Homo sapiens: one gene and its partner. The protein of the gene in region 1 interacts with the protein of each later gene in a biochemical or structural test. Each region holds a gene or a part of one and is shown on either strand. Other genes may lie near its edges.

Region 1 (3,500 bases):
GGCTCAAGCGATTCTCCTGCCTCAGCCTCCCTAGTAGCTGGGTTTATAGGCGTGTACCACCACGCCTGGCTACTTTTGTATTTTAAGTAGAGATGGGGTTTCGGCTTGTTGGCCAGGCTGATCTTAAACTCCTGACCTCAGGTGATCTGCCCGCCTCAACCTCCCAAAGTGCTGGGATTACGGGAGTGAGCTACCACGCCCGGCCTGCAATTTTTTAAAACATAGATTCATACTACAGATGGAGAAGTTTGTAATTTTATCCTCAAATTCCCCTACTAACTCCCTTCCATAAGTTTTAGATATTCTCTGAAAGTGGGTTGGTGTCCAGGATGATTTTACTTTTAAGCACTATGTGTTTGGGCTTAGCTAGCTGGGTCCAGCCTGCCCTGTAGTTTTCTTGAACATGGAGGGCTGGGCATTGGTCCTGACCAAGTTAAGTGGTAGGTCTCCCAAGCAAGCGTTCATTCTACCCTAGGGGTAAGTGTCCTCAATTTTTTAAGGCATTTTAAAACTCAGTATTTGTCTTTACCTTTTCGTTTATGATTCTAAAATCGGTTTAGCATTATAAGATAGGGTGCTCTTTATGCATGCTAGTTTAGCAGTCTGTGTGAAAGTTCCCTTGTCTTCACAGTGTTGTCACATACTCAGCCAGTTTGTTGTATTGGGCCAGTTTCCTCCAAAGCTTTTCTGAAACCTATTTGTGAAACTCCAAGTAAATCACATTAAAATTTGATGCAATAGCTATTTGTATAATTATAATTTAGATGATTTAATCTGTTGTATTTCTGTTCACTCTTGTAGCCCTCTGATTCTGTTCACATTACAAATGATGATGAAAGATTTCTACATCATCTTATCATAGAGGAGAAGGAAAAAGATAGCTTTACTGCTGTGGTTATCACAGGGGTACAACCAGAACACATACAGTACTTGAAAAATTATTTCCACCTTTGGACACGACAGTTAGCGTAAGTAATTATATTTGGCTTAGGAAATGTTGCTACTTAACTTTTTTAAGGCAGAAAACATTACAGATATATTGAAGCCTCTTTGGTATCCGTTTTGCTCCTGTCTCATTTTCTTCCCTTTAGTATTATCCAGTACTCTGATATTGGTGTTAAAACAGCTCTCTATTCATTTATTCTGTAAATATTTATAGATCACCTCTAGTGTACTGAGCATTATTTGAGGCACAGGATTTTGACAATATTATAAAATTAAAAAAGAACTTCACAGTTTGTCAGATTGAGCACTATATCACTTCCATGACCCCGTTTTGTGCTTCTTTTCCATAGGACCTGTCGTAATCTTCCATACCATATATATTTATTTTTGTTGTTAAATTCACTGCTGTATCTCCAATGTCTTCTAGAAGAATACTTGCTACATGGTAGATGCTCAAATGTTTATCAAGTGAATGAATGCATCAAGCCTATTAAAATAAAAAATATACGTACATATGTGCCTATATGACATTAGTACTGAAAATAATCATTGTGTTTTTATTCCAGTAACACTTGTAGGGACTCTATATTCCATTAGACCAAATCAGAGGAATAGTTATTTAATGGCTCTAAAAAAAAATTTTTTTTTTTTTTTTTGAGACGGAGTTTCACTCTTGTTGCCCAGGCTGGAGTGCAATGGCGCACTCTTGGCTCACTGCAACCACCACCTCCTGGGTTCAAGTGATTCTCCTGCCTCAGCCTCCCGAGTAGCTGGGATTACAGGCGCGTGCCACCACACTCAACTAATTTTTGTATTTTTAGTAGAGACAGGTTTTTGCCGTGTTGGCCAGGCTGGTCTTGAACTCCTGACCTCAGGTGATCCACCCACCTCAGCCTCCCAAAGTACTGGGATTACAGGCGTGAGCCATCGCGCCCGGCCTAAAATTTTTTTTTTATAGCTATGTGATACATACGATTTACTGTATTGTTTCCCTAATTTGCATTAGTATGAATTACTGAGACTTGCAAAATGGGTACATCTGCTCAAAATTCATATTTTAAAAATGTATCTTTTTACATTTACCCAAAAGGCTATTGTTCTTGAGAGTCTCAATTTTATACGTAATTATACGCTAAGAGAATTTTAAAATTTTTTTATGGGAAAATAAATTTGGTTTTAGGAATACCTTTTTTCTTGTTGAAGTTGTTTATTATCCCTGTTACCCAAGGTATTTAAGTAGGACTTTGCAGTTTTCTTCAAGTACATATTTTATTAGCTATTTTATAGTTTATTGAAGGAACTCAGTGTACATTAACACATAATTTAAATATACTCTTGCTCTAATGAAGGATTATGAAGAAATATTGCAAATTTCTATTTCACGAATAAAGACGTGGTATTTTATAATCCTGAACAATGTTACCAAAATATAATCTTTTTTAACCTTTTCTGAAAAAATAAAGAGGTGTTATTTCCAAAATGTTGGTTTTCAGTGAGATGGTGTCAAACTTACTAGTTTTGTTTTTGGAATCTTAGGGTAAGATTGTCTCAGTGCTATAGGAGAGGAGAGATGAATGTTCTAGAACAGGGGTCCCCAACGCCCCGGTCGTGAACTGGTACCCATCTGTGGCCTTTTAGGAACCCGGCCCCACAGTGAGTGGTGGGCCCGAGTGAGCATTACCACCTGGCTCCGCCTCCTGTCAGATCACTGGCAGCACTAGATTTCTCATAGGAGCACGAACCCTAATGTGAACTGTGCATGTGAGATATTGCGTGCTCCTTATGAGACTCTAGTGCTTGTCGATCTGAGGTGGAACATTTTCATCCCAAATCACCCCCCTTCAACTCCCATCTCTGGAAAAATTGTCTTCCATGAAACTGGTTTTGGTGCCAAAAAGGTTGGGGACTGCTGTTCTGGAATGGTATTCTCTTATTGAGATTAGATACCTAATCCAGTTTACCACCGATAATTGAGTCCTTTCTGGAACGTACCTGGTAAGTAGAATTATAGACTCTTGCTGTCTAGTTTATATTTATTTGATGAATTATTCCTCTTGGAAGTGGTGTATGTGGTCTTTGAAGTTGGAAAGGTCTGGGTTGAAGCCCACGGCTCCCTAACTCTATTCTGTGATGTCAGATAACTTACATACACTTCTTGCACCCCAGGTTCTATATCTGTAAAATGAGATGCAGTAATACCTGCATCTCAATTGTTTTTACCATTAAATGGAATATGTATTTTAAAATGCTTAATAAAGTGCTTGATACCTAGTAAATAGTGTTAAAATATTTTGATAGAAGATTACATTAACTATAATTTTATGTGAATTAAAAGTATAAAATTATTCTTCTCTATTTTAGGCATATTTATCACTACTATATTCATGGCCCAAAAGGAAATGAAATACGAACATCAAAAGAAGTTGAACCTTTCAACAATATTGATATTGAAGTAAGAGAAAAATCCATCTTAAAATAATAAAAATTATGAGATATTTGTTCCAGTTCCAAATGACTCAGGATAATAAAAAACACTTGATAATTAGACAACTTCT
Region 2 (3,500 bases), on another chromosome or scaffold:
ACATCTACACATAAAATTATAAATTGAACACGAGCATTAGTTATTTAATCAACTATTGCTAAGCAACACTAGAGCCACAGAAACACTTAACTGAGTTTAAGTAGGTCAGAAATGTAGAAATTCAGAAAAGTTAAGAATAAATGCCATGCCAGAAGCCATCTGTGTCAGTGACAATGTTAGTTCATATACTGTGGACTGGGGAAAAAATATTAGATGAAATATTTACATTTGCAATACATTTTTTGTTATTGTCTTAACTATATAGTAAACTATTTTTTAAATTTAGATAATCAACAATTATTAATAGCAAAGTTCAGAAAATGCTGAACAGAGGTACGTGTATTTTTAGTATGTGTGCACAATCTCAAAGAGACAGACACATAAACATATAAAATTAATACATTTTTGTTAGAAACAGTGGGGAGTGAAGGAGAGGATAGAAACACACATTATCATCCCAATTGTCCTGGCTGAGTTTAAATTTGGAACTCTATTCCCAGTACCAGAGAAAAACACCTAGAATATAAAGAGATAATCAGTAATTCAGAGAATCTTGTTTCATCATTTTTAAGGAAAATAATTAAGTTCATAAAGAAAATAATGAAAAACTCATGTTCAATTACCTTTTCTAACTTTTTGGCTTCAATATGTCGAAGTACTTGTTCTCTCCAGTCACGAGGAACTTTACTTTTTCCTGGAGGATCTAATAAAGAATGCTCAGAACCAACCCTTGCATTTGGTCTTTTTGAAGGACTAGTCCGTGAATAATTGAAATCACTAACTGACATAGTTCTCTCTGGTATTTCATTAATAGAGGGTCGAGCACTCTGAGGTCTTGATGCATTTGGACCATCTATGCTGTATGTTCGTGCAGAAAGGGGTCTCTGTGATCCTGGCATCATTGGAGGAGTTCTTCCCGCTGAGTGGAACTCTCTGTATGATAAATAATCTCCTTCAGGAATCTGAGCCCGCCTTGTAGAGCCTGGATCACCAAGATTTACAGAGGCTGTGGAGGACACACTACTTTGTCGCTGGATTGTACTTCGAGTTACTGCAGGAATAAGTCGGTCGTTTGGTGAGATGGCCCACATTTCCCCATGTCTTGCTGGGCCAAGTCTCTGATGTAAATGGTATGCAGTATTAGCTCGAACATTGTTATGATTAGAGAAATTCATATTGGCAGAATGTTTAGCATAACTTTGATTTTCTGTGCTCTCTGATCTAGGAAGGAGCTGAGGAGGAAAACTGGCATGGTCTATTTGGGGATTTTGTTTGGAGTGCCACAAAGTGTCTTTGACTGCAGCACTGCTACTGTATTGGATATTATACTGTGGAGGACCATATATTTGAGGTGCAGATTGTGGGCCACTTGTGGGGCCTCTTATTATATTTGGCTCTTCGGGATTATGATTTGAATCAAACTTGAAAATTGCCTTTGTTCCTGATATTAAATCAGAAGATGAGGAAGAACCAGTAAATACCTGCAATGGTTGATCATACAACAGTGTGGCAGACTTGCTCCTGACTATATTTTTTCCATCAACAGCAGATGTGATTTTAACGGTTGTACTTGGCTGCTGAGGTCCATTATCACTAAGAATATCATAGATTTTTAGCCCTCCAATCTCCATATTAGTTATGCTATGAGATTTCACAACAGATCCAACTGGACCACTTTTCTGAGGGGAGAGATCTTCAGTGCTTTTGGAAATACCTAAGTCAACAGAACAATCACTGTCATGTGGTTCAGTCCTATTAGGAGACTGGGAAGTTTCCTCAGAATGTCCATTTACCTTATTTACGGATTCCAAATTAGGATACTTGTTTCCATTTTCCAAGTGCTCAGTTTCCTCTTTAGAATTAATGCTTAAAAAGCTTGTTCCAAGCACAATATCCTGTGTTTTTGATCTTTCCATGATCTCTGGTTGAAATGTATCATTAGTTATAAGTTTATTAAGATTCATATTGATATGATCTAATTTGTGAGTGTCATCAGCTGTGGCTGTTGAGTCAACACTTTTCTCAATTAGAACTAATCGCTCTTCAACATTCAAATCATATTCAGGTAAGTTAAAATCTTTTTTATCATGAGCTTTGAACTTTTCCTCTGTTGAACTGTTTAAAATATCTCCATTTTGTAAAAGGCTGTTAAAATTTTCATCTTCTTGCCTAAAATAAAGATAATTTTATGAAAAACATAATAAAGCCGAGTTTTCTTAGTAACAGGGAACATTAATAAATAAATTGTGTAGGTAGACAAGTTAAAAAAGTTAATAAAAGTCAAAGACAAAAGGCATTTATTATCAAGCATGTAATTTTAAAATATTATCTTAATAGTTAAAAGAGCTTTATATTCAGTTGGAGACAAGTAATACAATTAAAATTCATAGATAATACCAAGATTAATTTTCATCAATACACTCAATCTGATTTGTCACAAAATAATTTAAAGGGCTGAACTATGAATAAAATTTTAATGTTTGCTGCATCTTTTCATGAATGTGCTAAAAAAACAAAATGCTTGAGGGAGGGCAGATATATGGAGAGAAACCTAGTAACATGAATAGTGGAGTAAAGAGCAAAGGACATTTTTACAGTTAATTTTGAAGCCTTACATTATTAACCAAATTAACCATAGTTAACGAAGTACACAGTTGTTATTACATTCAAATATATAGGTAAGAAAATTGTACAAAGCAAAGAACTGAATAATTGTCCAAAGTTTAACATCAAATATGTAAAAGGCATAGAAAGATAAATGAAGTCTAATCACTCTTCTAAGTAGCTAGCTGTATTTGGTAAATACTTTTAAATGTGTCATTCCAAAATTATACAAAATATTTTATTTCTACCTGTGATATTAAGTATTTGTGTCCTCTTGTATACATATTCAAGTTATGTTTCCACAAAAATTCCCTAATACTGGTCTTCCCATTACAAAAAAGATAACTTTCATTACTAGAAATACAGCACAAAAAGGTGTTGCTGTATTCCTTGCTTAGGCTTTATTTCATTATATTAAAAGCAGGATTTAGAAAATATCATACCGCTTTCCCAACAATAAATAAAATTTTATTATTCAACAAATTAATACGATAATATCTAGGAGGTTATAAAAATTAGTATTTTAAACAGCAGCTCATAGCTTCAAATTCAAAGAATAGAAATAAATGATTGATTGTGATTATAATTACACAGTACCTAAACTCATTTTCAGGCATAAAATTCACCTCCCTTTTCCAACAACACGCATTAATATATACAAATTTTACTTAAATATGCCTGAAATTTAAGAACAACTCTAAATGACTATTAAAAATATCCACACATTAAACTTTTGGTTTAGTAGTAACCCCGATCTTTTTTTTTTTTTTTTTGAGACCGGGTCTCAATTCTGTTACCCATGCTGGAGTGCAGTAGCCTGATCATGACTCACTGAGGCCTAAACCTCGCAAGCTCAAGTTAACCTCCCACCTTGGCCTCTCGAGTAGCTGGGACTA

Evidence for each region. The genes of interacting proteins can lie anywhere in the genome.
Region 2: the proteins of SMCHD1 (region 1) and ERBIN interact in a test that uses a peptide from one of them, tested with the Homo sapiens proteins (one large-scale study listed by IntAct).

Annotation. Positions count from the first base shown.
Region 1 is NC_000018.10:2,693,726-2,697,225, forward strand, and holds part of SMCHD1 (structural maintenance of chromosomes flexible hinge domain-containing protein 1), read left to right. Parts: intron 1-801; coding exon 802-968; intron 969-3,306; coding exon 3,307-3,397; intron 3,398-3,500. UniProt on the Homo sapiens protein: Non-canonical member of the structural maintenance of chromosomes (SMC) protein family that plays a key role in epigenetic silencing by regulating chromatin architecture.
Region 2 is NC_000005.10:66,052,075-66,055,574, reverse strand, and holds part of ERBIN (erbin), read right to left. Parts: intron 2,170-3,500; coding exon 624-2,169; intron 517-623; coding exon of another isoform or gene 409-516; exon of another isoform or gene 1-408. UniProt on the Homo sapiens protein: Acts as an adapter for the receptor ERBB2, in epithelia. By binding the unphosphorylated 'Tyr-1248' of receptor ERBB2, it may contribute to stabilize this unphosphorylated state.